Regions from separate parts of the Homo sapiens genome. Here region 2 is linked to region 1. The links come from fine-mapping of genetic effects on gene expression. Tissue or cell type: whole blood. Region 1 holds a variant in brackets; the other region holds the start of a gene. All regions are shown on one strand. Distances are from middle to middle.

Region 1 (8,053 bases):
TGAGGGCTCTCTGCCACGTGGGGCTCTTTGACTTCGCCTTTTGTGCCTTGTTTGACTGCGACCGCCCTGTGGCGCAGAAGTCTTGTGACCTCCTTCTCTTCCTGAGGGACAAGATTGCTTCCTACAGCAGCCTGCGGGAGGCCAGGGGCAGCCCCAACACTGCCTCCGCAGAGGCCACCCTGCCGAGGTGGCGGGCGGGTGAGCAGGCCCAGCCCCCAGGGGACCAGGAGCCTGAGGCTGTGCTGGCCATGCTCAGGTCCCTAGACCTGGAGGGCCTGCGGAGCACGCTGGCCGAGAGCAGCGACCACGTGGAAAAGAGTCCCCAGTCCCTCCTGCAGGACATGCTGGCCACGGGAGGCTTCCTGCAGGGGGACGAGGCCGACTGCTACTGAGCAGAACCAGAGTCTGCCACTGGGGCTCAGGACCAAGGGAGGCAGCACCATGTCCTTCTGTGGGACACTGCCAGCCCCAGGGCTCCAGCCCAGCCCGGTGGATCCTCTGGGGAAGCCAGGACCAGGAGAGAAGCAAGGTCAAGAAATCCCACAGTTTGATGTATTAAAGAAATGACTTATTTCTACTCAAAATAAATGGCATTGAAGTCTTTCTTTAACCCTTTTTGAGTTAATTTAATAATAATGATCTGAGACAAGGGTCCAGTGTCATTCATTCGCATGTGGATATCCAGTTTTCCCAGCACTGTTTATTTTTTATCTATCTGTCTGTCTGTCTGTTTTTTGTGATGGAGTTTCGCTCTTGTTGCCCAAGCTGGAGTGCAATGGCACGATCTCGGCTCACTGCAACCTCTGCCTCCTGGGTTCAAGTGATTCTCCTGCCTCAGCCTCCCGAGTAGCTGGGATTACAGGCGCACGCCACCATGCCTGGCTAATTTTTTTGTATTTTTAGTAGAAACGGAGTTTCACCATGTTAGCCAGGCTGGTCTCGAACTCCTGACCTCAGGTGATTGACCCACCTCAGCCTCCCAAAGTGCTGTGATTACAGGCGTGAGCCACTCCGCCCGGCCAATTTATTTTGGTTAAAATTATTCCTGGGGGCTGGGCGCAGTGGCTCACGCCTGTAATTCCAACACTTCGGGAGGCCGAGGTAGGAGGATTGTTTAAGGCCAGGAGTTTGAGAATAGCCTGGACAACATAGCAAGACCCCATCTCTACACATTTTTTTTTGTTCAGAGATGGAGTCTCAGTCTTGTTGCCCAGGCTGGAGTGCAGTGGTGTGATCTCGGCTCACTGCAACCTCCGCCTCCTGGGTTCAAGCAATTCTGCCTCAGCCTCCCCAGTAGCTGGGATTACAGGCGCCCACCATCATGCCTGGCTAATTTTTGTATTTTTAGTAGAGACAGAATCTCACCAGTTTGGCCAGGCTGGTCTCAAACTCCTAACCTCAGGTGATCCACCTGCCGTATCTCTTTTGTTTTTAATTAGCTGGGCATGGTGGTATGCACCTGAAGTCCCAGCTACTTGGGAGGCTGAGGTGGGAGGATTGCTTGAGCCCAGGAGTTCGAGGCTGCAGTGAGCCGTGATCACACCACCGCACTCCAGCCTGGGTGACAGAGAGAGACCCTATGTCAAAACAACGCATTGAGTGCTTGGAGTTCTCTGCATTCTTGGCAGCACCTCAAATCTGTGCTAGCACCTCAAATCTGTGCTAGAGAAGACCTGTAGCCCTAACTTCTGAAGAACTTTTTCTTTTTGCTTCTCTTAGCACCAAGTGTCTTTCGTGTGGAGGGAGCAGGGCTAATTCCGTTTCATTCTTACCCTAAGAGTGTAGACCTTTAGGTTTTCAGCTTAAGGTGGGAAGGGTTTTCTATAATGCTCCCCATTTTGGGCAGGACTGGCCCTTGACTTCTGTCCCCCTGACCCCTCAAGGCCACAGAATGAGAACCCAAGTTTGCTGGTTTTGGCAAATGCCCTCCAACAAAAGGGCACCTCCCGGGTGGCACAGCCGTGGGCTGGTGCGCCCCACCAGGGTGCAGCAGTGACATCAGCCCCGCCTCGGGGCACATGTCCCTTCCTGGTGACAGCAGGCTAGGTGCCTGGACCAGCCGTTTCCCTGAAGACGATGAAACACGCTGGGTGAAATATCCAAAGGCCAGGAACACTGAACAGCTGACAAGATAGCAGGTAATTAAATGCCAGGCCTCGTGCTGGAGGAAAACTGGACTCAGATACAAGGCCCTCCCACAGGGATCTGGAGAGCCTGGCTCTCAGCTCTGGCCTGGGGGAACTCAGAGAGGGAGGGGCTCTGCGGATCAGCTGCCCCTAGGCAGTAACACTGAACCGCAGTACCCAGTGAAAAGAGACTGCAGGGCCCAGCGTGGTGGCTCACGCCTGTAATCTCAGCACTTTGGGAGGCCGAGGTGGGCGGATCTCTCGAGCTCAGGAGTTCAAGACCAGCCTGGCTAACACGGTGAGACCCCGTCCACTAAAAATACAAAAATTAGCTAGGCATGGTGGTGGGCACCTGTAATCACAGCTACTCAGGAGGCTGAGGCAGGAGAATCACTTGAATCCGGGAGGCAAAGGTTGCAGTGAGCCAAAATCACACCACTGCACTCTATCCTGGGCAACAGAGTGAGACTCTGTCTCAAAAAAAAAAAAAAAGGAGCGAGCCGGGGCGCAGTGGCTCACGCCTGTAATCCCAGCATTTTGAGAGGCCGAGGCGGGTGGATCACTTGAGGTCAGGAGTTCAGGACCAGCCTGGCCAACATGGTGAGACCTTGTCTACTAAAAATACAAAAATTAGCTGGGCATGGTGGCAGGTGCCTGTCATCCCAGCTACTCAGGAGGCTGAGGTAGGAGAATCGCTTGAACCCGGGAGGCAGAGGTTGCAGTGAGCCAAGATTGTGCCACTGCACTCCAGCCTGGGTGACAGAATGAGACTCTGTCTCAAAAAACAAACAAACAGAGACTAGAAACTCACACCAATCATTACCTCGTAAGTGCAGTTAGCTCAGGAAGTACAATATTTCCAAAAAGGGGAGAGGTTGCAATTAGCCAAGACTGTGCCATTGCACTCCAGCCTGGGCAACAAGAACGAAACTCCGAGGAAAACCTCTGACACACAGCCTCTCCCTCTCCCTCTCCCTCTCCCTCTCCCTCCCCCTCCCCCTCCCCCTCCCCCTCTCCCTCTCCCTCTCCGTCTCCCTCTCTCTCCACGGTCTCCTTCCACGGTCTCCCTCTGATGCCAAGCCAAAGCTGGACGGTACTGCTGCCATCTCGGCTCACTGCAACCTCCCTGCCTGATTCTCCTGCCTCAGCCTGCCGAGTGCCTGTGATTGCAGGCGCGCGCCGCCACGCCTGACTGGTTTTCGTTTTTTTTTTTGGTGGAGACGGGGTTTTGCTGTGTTGGCCGGGCTGGTCTCCAGCTCCTAACCGCGAGTGATCCGCCAGCCTCGGCCTCCCGAGGTGCTGGGATTGCAGACGGAGTCTCGTTCACTCAGTGCTCAATGGTGCCCAGGCTGGAGTGCAGCGGCGTGATCTCGGCTCGCTACAACCTCCACCTCCCAGCTGCCCGCCTTGGCCCCCCAAAGTGCCAAGATTGCAGCCTCTGCCCAGCCGCCACCCCATGTGGGAAGTGAGGAGCGTCTCTGCCTGGCCCCCCATCGTCTGGGATATGAGGAGCCTCTCTGCCTGGCTGCCCAGTCTGGAAAGTGAGGAGCGTCTCTGCCCGGCCGCCATCCCATCTAGGAAGTGAGGAGCGCCTCTTCCCGGCCGCCATCCCATCTAGGAAGCGAGGAGCGCCTCTTCCCCGCCGCCCATCGTCTGAGATGTGGGGAGCGCCTCTGCCCCGCCGCCCTGTCTGGGATGTGAGGAGCGCCTCTGCTGGGCCGCAACCCTGTCTGGGAGGTGAGGAGCGTCTCTGCCCGGCCGCCCCGTCTGAGAAGTGAGGAAACCCTCTGCCTGGCAACCGCCCCGTCTGAGAAGTGAGGAGCCCCTCCGCCCGGCAGCTGCCCCGTCTGGGAAGTGAGGAGCGTCTCCGCC[C/T]GGCAGCCGCCCCGTCCGGGAGGGAGGTGGGGGGGGGTCAGCCCCCCGCCGGGCCAGCCGCCCCGTCCGGGAGGTGAGGGGCTCCTCTGCCCGGCCGCCCCTACTGGGAAGTGAGGAGCCCTCTGCCCGGCCAGCCGCCCCGTCCGGGAGGGAGGTGGGGGGTCAGCCCCCCGCCCGGCCAGCCGCCCAGTCCGGGAGGGAGGTGGGGGGTCAGCCCCCCGCCCAGCCAGCCGCCCCGTCCGGGAGGGAGGTGGGGGGATCAGCCCCCCGCCTGGCCAGCCGCCCCATCCGGGAGGTGAGGGGCGCCTCTGCCCGGCCGCCCCTACTGGGAAGTGAGGAGCCCCTCTGCCCGGCCAGCCGCCCCGTCCGGGAGGTGAGGGGTGCTTCTGCCCGGCCGCCCCTACTGGGAAGTGAGGAGCCCCTCTGCCCGGCCACGACCCCGTCTGGGAGGTGTGCCCAGCGGCTCATTGGGGATGGGCCATGATGACAATGGCGGTTTTGTGGAATAGAAAGGCGGGAAGGGTGGGGAAAAAATTGAGAAATCGGATGGTTGCCGGGTCTGTGTGGATAGAAGTAGACATGGGAGACTTTTCATTTTGTTCTGTACTAAGAAAAATTCTTCTGCCTTGGGATCCTGTTGATCTGTCACCTTATCCCCAACCCCGTGCTCTCTGAAACATGTGCTGTGTCCACTCAGGGTTAAATGGATTAAGGGCGGTGCAAGATGTGCTTTGTTAAACAGATGCTTGAAGGCAGCATGCTCGTTAAGAGTCATCACCACTCCCTAATCTCAAGTACCCAGGGACACAAACACTGCGGAAGGCCGCAGGGACCTCTGCCTAGGAAAACCAGAGACCTTTGTTCACTTGTTTATCTGCTGACCTTCCCTCCACTATTGTCCTGTGACCCTGCCAAATCCCCCTCTGCGAGAAACACCCAAGAATGATCAATAAAAAAAAAAAAAATAAAAAAAAAAAGAACGAAACTCCATCTCAAAAAAAAAAAAAAAAAAAAAATCTCCCAAAGAAATACCAATAAACAAGAAAATAGTCAAATGTAAAAAAAAAAAAAAAAAAAAAAAAAAAATTTCCAAAAAGGTGACCACAGGGAGAAAAACATGAAGATAACCACCAGCTCAGACCCAGCCGGGGCTTGTGGCCATGCCCACCTGCTCCTGTGTGTCCTGGGCCTCGGGCAAGCCACTCATCCTCTCCCCACTGTTTCCAGTCTGTAAGCTGGGATTAGTGACGCTGCCTTCTCAGTTGTGGGAACCTAGAAGGCAGCAATGGGCCTCTCTCCCTAGGTTGCAACCCGGGGCTGGCACGTAGTAGGTCTGTTTCCAGCTGCCACACACGCTACCTTACCAGGGGTCCCCAAGAGACAGGACAGGGTGATGGGCCCATTTCACAGGGGGAAAAACCGAGGCAAAGAAAGGCAGTGGAGACTCGTGCTTCTGCTTCAGTAGCTCCTGCCATGGACTTGTCATGGGAACCCCCTCCCACAAGCTCTGTCCCCGGCACCCTCTGGCACTGTTAGCCAGCGGAATCCAGCTGTCACCATGGCCTGGTTCTTAGCACCCCTGGGAACTTTTAGAGCCTCTGGCCTGTGCTAACTGAGGTTGGGCAGCTGCTGGCCAGGGCCCTAGAGAGAGGGGTATCAGGTAGCTAGTGCTGAGTAACAAATAGCTCCAAACACATGACTTCACATGTCCTTAGTATTAAAGGGCCTGGTGGTACTGCTGCTCATTGCTAGGCCTGGCAAGTCCTAGCTGGGCTCACTCACACATCTGTGGGCAGCTGGGAGCTAGCTAGTCCAGGATGGCCTCAGCTAGGGTGACCCAGGCTCCATCGCCCTCTTGCCTTCCAGCAAAGCAGCCCAGCCCGTTCTCGTGCTATAGCAGGAGTCGGGGAGAGCAGGCAGAGGCACGCATGTCCCTGGAGGCTTAAGCTCAGAGCTGGGAATGTCATTGCTGTCACCTTTTATTGGCCACAGCAAGTCATAAGACAGGCTCAGATTGAAGGATGGGGAAGTAGACGCCACCTCTAGACAGGAGTTGGGGCAAAGTCACACAGCAAAGGGCGTGGTGATTCAGGGAGGAGTGGGGCATCGGGGACACGTTTGTAACTGATCTACCACAGAGGGGAGCCCCCCTTTGAGAAAGTGCTTGGTGGGCCTTGGTGCTTACGCAGCCACGGACCAACCTGCTAGATGGGGCCTTCAGTAGGGTGGCGGGACGTCAGTTTAGCCTCAGGATTCGACTCCGAGCCTCTTGCGAGACCACGTCTTGGGCAGCATCGTAGACCCGGCTGTGAGCACAGAGTGGCTCTTCCAGAAAGTTTGTTGAATGACTGACTGACCTAAGTCAGTCCCTGTGCCAGGCAGCCCAGAGGGACCAGCCCAGAGCCTCCTTCTCGGGGTGCAAGCCTGGCTTGGGATTGGGGGGTGTCTGCACTCGTGGAGCCCCCCATGCCTGCCGGGAGCCTGAAGACGCAGAGACCTCCTGCCTCGCCTCGCCCCCTCCGTGGGGACCCTCTTCCCCACACTCCTTGGTTCCTGTCGGAGCCAAGATGTGTCACCATGGAAACCGCTTGGCAAACGCTGGCAGGCAGAGGCGGCCAACAGCAGCTCTCCCGATCGAGCTCCGGGCACCGGCTGGAGCAACGTCGCGGGACGGCGTGAGCGAGCACACCCAGCCGTGTGTGACACGCGTGGGGACAGAGGCCGGGGCGGCTGCGGGAGGGCGTGCGGGGAGGTCAGGGCGCCCCGGCGTGTATGCGCCCACGTGCGCGCCTGTGCGTGTGCCAACAGTGCAGCCACATCGGAGCGCGTGTGCTCCGAGTGTGATGGCCGCGTGGGCCGGTGCAGGGTGTGTGTGGGGATGGGGGTGTCTGATTGGTGCTGTGACCTGCGGCAGCACAGCCGCCTGCGTTGAGTGCCCACGGTGGGCTGGACATTGCACTAGGTGCTGACAGGACCGGCAGAGGTGGCCACTGCCCTCGTCCCCAGCCTGCACTCCTGGGCGAAGGCTGACGCTGAACAGGTACTTGTAAGAGTCGCCGAAGTGCGTGCCGGGAGGGTTCTGGGAAGAGGCAGCTGTGGGGCCTGAAGCCTAAATGTGGGGTGGGAGGCATCCAGGCTGCGGCTCCAGGCAGAGGGCACAGCCCGGCTGTGAGCCACCACGCCTGGCCCCAAGGGCCTTCCTGTGTGTCCAATTCTGGGCTCAGAAGCAGGGGGTCACCCTGCAGAATATCTAAGAAGGCTGAGGCTGTGTGGGCACATGGACCCAGCAGGGAACAAGACTTGCCCATTGTTCTGACAGACTCGAAGATGGATCTGGCCCTGGTCCCTGCTTTCCCTCTGACCCCAGGCCCACCCGGCAAGAATGGCTGAAGTCACATAGCAGCCTGGCCCTGGCCCCTCTGAGCCTGTGGAGAGCCCTAGTTGTCTGTGATTGGGGAGGGGGGATCAAGAGACCCAACTGCATTGCCTGCCCTCCTTCCCAGGCTTCCAGTCCTCCCAGTGGATCCCACCTCTGCACCTTTGCCCAGGCTGTGCTGAGACCTGGAAGGCCCCTTCTCTCCCTACTCCATCTTGACAAAGCCTTCCTGCTTCAGCTCAGAGGCACCTCTTCCAGGAAGTTGGCCCTGATGGCCCCAGTGGAAGGGAAGTTCCTTTCAACTGAGTGGGGAGGCGCCCCACCCTAGCAGCCCCTCCCAGACCCCAAGCAGCCTTGGGGCTCCCCAGGCACTCGCCTGGCAGAACGGAAGCAGGGGTGGCGGCTGAGGTCTGCCACCCTCGCTGAGCGCCCTGCAGCCCCTGTGGTTGCAGTTTTACTTGTTTTGAAAGCCCCATTAATGATCAGAAGTTTGGGAAAGGGGGCCTGGCTGGGCTAGACTGGGGGGACATGGAGCCCCAGGGACCAGCCAGGCCCCTTTCTGACCAGACCTCTAATCTGATGTGATGGCACCACTGGTGGGTGGGACACAGCTGTCCCCAGAATGTACCTGGGGGAGGAATGACTTCACCTCCCCTGCCGGGTGAGTCACCTTCTGGGG
Region 2 (8,044 bases), 25 kb before region 1:
TGCAGTGAGCCATGATCGCACCACTGCACTCCAGGCGCAAAGAAACAAAAGCAAGCTGAGCACCTGCTCATGCCTGTAATCCCAACACTTTGGGAGGCCAAGGAGTGAGGACTGCTTGAGCCCAGAAGTTCGAGACCAGCCTGGGTGACATAGTGACACCCAGTGTTGACAAAAAATTAAAAAATTCGCCAGGCATGGTGGCACACGCCTGTAGTCCCAGCTACTTGGGAGGCCGAGGCAGGAGGATCACTCAAGCCCAGGAGTATGAGGCTGCAGGGAGCTGTGATTGTGCCACTGCTCTCTAGCATCGACAACAGAGTGAGGTTCTGTCTCTGAAAAACAAAAACAAATAATCAAAAACACAAAAGCCATGTTTAGAGGGCAATTTGTAGCTGTAAATGCCTATATTAAAAAAAAAAAAGAAAGAAAGATCTCAAGGCAATAATCCAATAATCTAAACTTTCACCTTCAGAACCAGGAGATAGAAAACTAAACTCAAAGGAAGTAAAAGAAAGGAATAAAAATTACAGTGAATAAATGAAATAGAAAATAGAAACAATAGAAAAATCAATGAAACCAAAAGTTGGTTCTTTGAAAAGATCAACAAAACTGACAAACCTTTAGCCAAGAAAAAAAACCCAGAGACACGAAATTACCAAAATACAGGGGGAAAAAAAAAAAAAGGGGGCCTCACTACTGACCTTATAGAAGTAAAGAAACACCCAGAACCACATGGTCTCGCTGGTGAATTCTATCAAACATTTAAAGAGAAATTAATACCAATGCTTCACAAACCCTTCTAAAAAACAGAAAAGAAGGAAATGCTTCCCAATTCATTCTATGAGACCTATATTACACTGATACCAAAAGCAGACAAAGAAATATCACAAGAAAAGAACACTACAGACCAACATTCTTTATGAATACAGTTGCAAAAATCCTCAACAAAATGCTAGTAGGCATGAAAAGGATTTTATATATATATATATATGTACCCTAATTGGTACTGGTATATATTTATGTGCACACACACACACACACACCCCAAGACCAAGAATGAAAGATTGGTTTAACATACAAAAATCAGTCAATATTCCATATTAATAAAATGAAGAAAAAGAAACATATGATTTTCTCAAAAGATACAGAAGGTATGTTTGACAAAATCTAACACTCATTCATGATAAAGATACTCAATAATCTATGAAGAGAATTTCCTCAGCCTAATAAATGGCATCTACAAAAATCCAGGGCAACACAATATTTAACAGAGGAAGACGGAATGTTTCCCTTCTAATAGCAGCAGCAAGACAAGGCTGTCCTTTCTCATCACTTCAATTCAAATTATACTTGAGTCTTTTGCCAGGACATTAATGTGAGAAAAGTAAATAAAAGACATTCAGATTGAAAAGAAGGAAGTAAAACTATCTCTATTCACAGACAACATGATTTTATACATAGAAAATCCTAATGAATCTACTAAAAAACTAGTAAACATAATAAATGAGTTCAGCAAGTTTGCAGGATATGAGATTCATATAAAAATATTATTGTAAGGCCGGACGTGGTGGCTCAGGCCAGTAATCCCAGCACTTTGGGAGGCCAAGGCGGGTGCATCACGAGGTCAGGAGATCGAGACCATCCTGGCTAACAAGGTGAAACCCCGTGTCTACCAAAAATACAAAAAAATTAGCCGGGCATGGTGGCGGGCGCCTGTAGTCTCAGCTACTCGGGAGGCTGAGGCAGGAGAATGCTATGAACCCGGGAGGCGGAGCTTGCAGTGAGCCGAGATCGCGCCACTGCACTCCAGCCTGGGCAACAGAGCAAGACTCCATCTCAAAAAAAAAAAAAAAATTATTGTATATATTAGCAGTAAATAAGCTGAAATGAAATTAAGAAAATTCAATATACAATAACATCAAAAAGCATAAAATACTTAGGAATAAATTTAACAAAAGCATAGGCTTTGTACATTGAAAAATATAAACCATTGCTGAAAGAAATCAAAGATCTACATAGGGCTGGGAGCAATGGCTCACGCCTGTAATCCCAGCACTTTGGGAGGCCAAGGCAGGTAGATAACCTGAGGTCAGGAGTTAGAGACCAGCCTGGCCAACATGGTGAAACCCCACCTCTACTAAAAATAGAAAAATTAGCTGGGTGTGGTGGCAGGCGCCTGTAGTCCCAGCTACTGAGGAGGCTGAGGCAGGAGAATCCTTTGAACCTGGGAGGCAGAGACTGCAGTGATCTGAGATGGCATCATTGCACTCCAGCCTGGGTGGCAAAGCGAGACTGTGTCTTTTTTTTTTTTTTTTTTTTTTGAGACAGAGTCTCACTCTGCTGCCAGGCTGGAGTGCAGTGGCACGATCTTGGCTCGCTGCAAGCTCCACCTCCTGGGTTCACGCCATTCTCCTGCCTCAGCCTCCCAAGTAGCTGGGACTACAGGCGCCCGCCACCACGCCCGGCTAATTTTTTGTATTTGTAGTAGAGATGGGGTTTCACTGTGTTAGCCAGCATGGTCTCGATCTCCTGACCTCATGATCTGCCCACCTCAGCCTCCCAAAGTGCTGGGATTACAGGCATGAGCCGCCGTGCCCGGCCAAGAGACTCTGTCTTAAAAAAATAATAAAAAATAAATAATATACATAAATTATTTTTATAATCACAACAAGCAGTTTTGTTCTTAAAGATGAAGAAGCAGTAACTGAAGGCCAGTGTAGACAGGCAGGCCCTCCAGATGAGACAGGACGTGGTGCCCTGGGGAACAAGCAGGCAACTTCAGCTGCTCCAAGTTGGCCAGCAGCACCAAGCCCCTACTGCGGGTGCAGCTGTGCTGAACCCTGTGGTCTCCTTAGGAGGAAGCAAGGTGAGCACAGTTCCCTTGATGTGAAACCTTCCAAAGGCTTCCTCTGTTTCTCCAATAAAATCCAAATTCCCTGCATGGCCAGCAGGACTCCCCATAGTCAGGCTCATGCCCATCTTCTGCTCAGTCTCCTTGCCCGCGTCCCAACGGGCTTTCTTTTTTTTTGAGACAGGGCCTCACTCTGTTGCCCAGGCTGGAGGGCCGTGATATGATCACAGTTCACTGTAGCCTCCACCTCCTGGGCTCAAGCGATCCTCCCACCTCAGCCTCACTCTGTCTCTCAGGCCTTGGAGGGCCATGATCACAGTTCACTGTAGCTTCCACCTCCTGGGCTCAAGCGATCCTCCCACCTCAGCCTCCTGAGTAGTTGGGACTACAGGCAGGCACCACCACAGCTCGGCTAATGTGATGGTTTTTTGTAGAGATGGGGTCTTGCGATGTTGCCCAGGCTGGTCTGGAACTCTTGGCCTCAAGCGATCCTCCCATCTCGGCTTCCCAGAGTGCAGGGACTACCGGGGGACTACCGGCCTGAGCCACGGCTCCCGGCCATATGGGCCTGTTTCATTTTCTGCACAGCACTTCTCACTTTCTGACACGATCTTAATTACCTGTTTATTACCTTGTCCCTCCGCCCCCCCCCCCCCCCCCACTGGAATGCAGCTTATTCCCGTGTCTCTAACACACAGTAGATATTTACCGGGCAAAGTAACTAACCTAAGGCTCATGCACCCTCGCCCTGGGGAGTACATCGGGCCCCACCCTCCTCCAGGAAGCCTCCTCTGACCAAGCTGGGTTCCCAGACCCTGGGGCTGCCTCCCTCCCACCCCGAAGGCTTGGGGCCACACGGGATCCGTGGATCCCGCCTTAGATCGGGGGTGCCCGGAGGCACTTACACCGTGAGCTCCGTCACCTGCGGGCCGCAGACTCGCAGGCGCCCAGAGGCGAGGGCGCGGCGTCCCGGAGAGCTTCCTGGAAGCGGCGGCCTCTGCGAAAGCGGGCGCGGGCGAGGCTGCAGGCGGCGCGGGGCCTGCAGCGCGCTCTTGTGCGGTAACAATAATGGCAGCTGTCACCCGGCCGTGCGCCCCGTCCTCACGCCCCGGGCCGGCCCCTGCGCGGGGCCCCGAGGCTGCGGGCGACGGAGACGAGCCGAGGCCTCGCGGACGCCCGCCCGGCGTCGCCCCCTCGCCCGTTCTTACCGTGTCCAAGGCCGGCTCCCCGGTGCCCAGGAACATGGTGGCGGCGCTGCCCGGCCGCCCCTCAGGGTTGCTGGCTCGGGCGTCCGGGTCTGGGAATCCGCGGGCAGCCCTGGCCGCCCGCAGCCTCGGGGCCTTCCCTGGCGCCGGCCCGCGACCCCGCTGCCATGGCAACCAGGCCGCCGACCTACCCAGCCGGGTAAGCGACCTGCGTTCCCCCTGGGGCGACCATGCGCGTGCGCAGAGTCCGCGGGCGCCGGCCGGCCGACCAGGAGCGCTCCCGGAGTTCCCGGGGCGGAGCGCGGGGGCTGAGAGGGGGAAAAAAACCGGCCCGGCGCAGTGGCTCGCGTCTGTAATCCCAACACTATGGGAGCCTAAGGCAGGAGATTCAATTGAGCCCAGGAGTTTGATACCAGCCTGGGCAATGTAGCGAGACCCCGTCTCTCGAAAAATAAAATAAAAATAAAAGCCAGGCATGCTGGTGCACGCCTATAGTCCCAGCTCCTCGGGAGGCTGAGGTGGGAGGATCGCTTGGAGCCCAGGAGGTCGAGGCTGCAGTGAGCTATGATTGCACCACTACAGTCCAGCCTGGGCGACAGAGCAAGACCCTGTCTCAATCAAACAAACACACATAATAAACTTTCGTTTGCTTTCAGGGTCTCACCCAGGGCGCTTTGCTCTACGTGCTCCCTGTGCATAAGTACCTCTTGCCACTCTCCCACCCTTGGGCTTCGCAAACTTTTTGCCCTTCTCTTATCTAATTATAGAGCCAGCGCCTATCTACGACCTTTTATCTGTGATTCTGAATTCCACAAACTTCCGAAAGCCCTTCACAACTCATTTGAAGGCCAGACCAGTCCTAACCTCAACTCTCCGGGAGGAAAACTCTGAGCTGAGGCTATTTATAGTGCTTATTTATCCCACGGGGTGTACATGAGTGAGTTTCACTGAATAACTTCTTTTTTTTTTTTTTTTGACGGAGTCTTGCTCTGTGGCCCAGGCTGGAGTGCAGTGGTGCGATCTCCGCTCACTGCAACCTTTGCCTCCTGGGTTCAAGCGATTCTCCTGCCTCAGCTACCCGAGTAGCTGGGACTACAGGTGCGTGCCACCACGCCCAGCTAATTTTTGTATTTTTAGTAGAGACGGGTTTCACCACCTTGACAAGGATGGTCTCGCTCTCTTGATCTCGTGATCCGCCCGCCTCCACCTCCCAAAGTGCTGGGATTACAGGCGTGAGCCACTGCACCCGGCCCTGAATAACTATTAATACGTTTAATTATGGGGTGTGTGTCACACTCTGCTGTAATCTCATATTTAATGTACATGTGCCATGTCACATTTCTAAAATCTGAACAGTTCTGAATTCTGAAAAAACATTTGTCCCCAAAAGTTTGAGATAAGAAATTGTGGACCTGGGCCAGGCACGATGGTGGCTCACGCCTGTAATCCCAGCACTTTGGGAGTCTAGGGTGGGTGGATCACTTGAGGTCAGGAGTTTGAGACCAGCCTGACCAATATGGTGAAACTCTGTCTCTACTAAAAATACAAAAATTAGCCAGGGGTCGTGGGTGCCTGTAGTCTCAGCTACTCAGGAGGCTGAGACAGGAGAATTGCTTGAACCTGGGAGGTGGAGGTTGCAGTGAGCTGAGATCACACCACTGCACTCCAGCCTGGACATCAGAGCGAGACTCCACCTCAAAAAAAAAAAAAATTGTGGACCTGTGCAATACAATATTCAAATCTGGAGCCAGACTGCTTGGGTTCAAATCCAAACTGTGCCAATCCAGTAGCTGTAAGGCCTTATGAGTTAGCCTCTCTGTGCCTCATTTTCCTCATCTGATGGGCTGGTAGTGGTACTCTCCTACCGTTGCTGTAGAATCATACAAGTTTACAGTAAGTGAAGCACTTAGCACAGTGCTGTTGTTGAGTTTTCTTTACTCCACAATTACCTAACTGGGTGAATGTTAGTATCTCATTTCACAATGAGGAACCAAATTTCAGGGAAGATAACTGTGCATTTCAAACTTTTTCACACATGTAGTTCTAAGGATGTACGTGTGTGTGTGTGTGCAGGGGGCATGCAAGCGTCAGGGAAGTTGCTTTTCCAAGGTTACCCAGCACGGCTGGGCGCGTTGGCTCACGCTGGTAGTCCCAGCACTTTGGGAGGCCTAGGTGGGCGGATCACCTAAAGTCAGGAGTTCGAGACCAGCCTGGCCAACATGGTGAAACCCCGTCTCTACTAAAAATACAAAATTAGCTGGGCGTGGTGGCCCGCACCTGTAATCCCAGCTACTCGGGAGGCTGAGGCAGGAGAATCGCTTGAACCCAGGAGGTGGAGGTTGCAGTGAGTCAAGATTGAGCCATTGCACTCCAGTCTGGGCAAAAAGAGTGACACTCCGTCTCCATAAATAAATAAATAAAATAAAGGTGACCCAGCAAAGTCAGTGCTTTTAAATTTTTAAATTTTAATATCCATAGGAATTCTGCTTTGTTTCCTAAATCTGGTGTTGGCTCCCAACAATCTTGCTATAAAACAATGCTTTGGGAACATGAGCCTTGTCTATCCACTGGCTTTGAGACTCTCGAACACACAGTTAGTGTTTTGAACTCAATTTTTTGGACCTAGTTTTTCTGCCTGTTTGCTTTCTTAAAACACAGGGTCTTGCTCTGTTGCCCAGGCTGGAGTGCCGGGGCAGGATCATAGCTCACTGCAGCCTTGAACTTCTGGGCTCAAGCGATCCTCCCGCCTCAGCCTCTGGAGTAGCTGGGACCACAGGCGCATGCTACCAGGTCTGGCTGATTTTCTTTTTTTTTTTTTGAGACGGAGTCTCGCCCTGTAGCCCAGGCTGGAGTGCAGTGGCACCATCTTGGCTCACTGCAACTTCCGCCTCCCAGGTTCAAGAGATTCTCCTGCCTCAGTCTCCCGAGTACTTGGGATTACAGGCGCGCGCCTCCACGTCCGGCTAATTTTGATATCTTAGAGATACAAAAATTAGAGACGAGACGGGATTTCGCCATGTTGGCCAGGCTGGTCTCGAACTCCTGACCTCGTGATCCGCCCGCCTGGGCCTCCCAGAGCGCTGGGATTACAGGCGTGAGCCACCACGCCTGGCCTTTTTTTTTTTTTTTTTTTTTTTTTTTAAATTTTAAGAGATGGGGTCTCGCTTTGTTGCCTAGGCTGGTCTCAACTCCTGGCTTCAAGCAATCCTCCCAACTGCGCCTCCTAAAGGGCTGGAATTACAGGCATGAGCCACAGCGCGGCCGCGGAGGACTTAATTTGAGAACCTGAAGCTAAATGACCAAGGGCTTTGGTGCACGGATCAGGACGCTTCTCTCCGGCACATAGTTTTCTCGCTCCCGCCGGTGCAGACACTGGGCGCCCTGCAGGCGAAGCCCCGCCCCTCCGGACACAACCCCGCGCCTTCCTCAGAGATCCCCGCCCTCGAGACGCCCCGCCCACCCACCGGATGCTCGGCATGAACCACTAGGCGCCTGGCGGGGGTGATCTGTCGGAGCGACCGGCTTGGCGCCTGCCTGTCCCCAGCCCCTCTCAGCTTGAACTCCTTCCTTCAAGTCTGGGCCCTCGAGGCTTCCAGAGCGGCCTCCAGGGGTGCAGTCTCAGTTCCCCACGCCAGCCGTCTCCGTCCTCCGCCTCCTCCGGGCCTGGCAGGTGGCACTGTCCGGAGGCGGAGCCTTGGGCGAGGGGTGGTTGCGGCGGAGGACGCAACCGAGCGGTGAGGCGCGTGGGCCTTCGGGGGTCGAGGTCGTGGTAGTGGGGCGCGGGGAGGCCAAGACCCGGCCGAGGGGGGCGGGCGGGCCAGGGAGCAGCCCAGCCCGGGGCGTGCGCGACCTGGGCTCGCTTCCCAGCCCGACTGTGGCCGCCTGCTCTGGCGCCCCTTCTGGACTCTCGGGCCTGGCGCTCGCGGCCAAAACTGACTTCAAAGTGTGGGGAGGGTTCCTCTTCCCGGGACGCAGCCTTCCCGGGCAT

The links. PIP is the estimated chance that this variant, and not a neighbour inherited with it, causes the effect.
Region 2: it holds the start of IQCE, and the variant in region 1 is fine-mapped to the expression of IQCE in whole blood (GTEx, PIP above 0.99).

What each region holds. Positions count from the first base shown.
Region 1 is chr7:2,530,408-2,538,460 of GRCh38, reverse strand. BRAT1 (BRCA1 associated ATM activator 1) reads left to right here. Exons shown (of 14, transcript NM_152743.4): 14 at 1-651. The coding sequence ends at 392. Among named protein-coding and RNA genes, the nearest start is that of MIR4648, 7.4 kb to the right of the region's middle. RefSeq lists enhancers at 1,459-1,958, 1,959-2,460, 3,170-4,089, 4,090-5,010, 6,196-7,168 and 1 more. The variant C/T (reference allele first, on the strand shown) is at 3,999.
Region 2 is chr7:2,555,233-2,563,276 of GRCh38, reverse strand. It overlaps IQCE (IQ motif containing E), which reads right to left and starts at 4,298. Exons shown (of 22, transcript NM_152558.5): 1 at 4,060-4,298. The coding sequence starts at 4,095. BRAT1 (BRCA1 associated ATM activator 1) reads left to right here and starts at 7,753. Exons shown (of 14, transcript NM_152743.4): 1 at 7,753-7,790. RefSeq lists silencers at 3,617-3,686, 3,907-4,416, 7,759-7,998 and an enhancer at 7,169-7,846.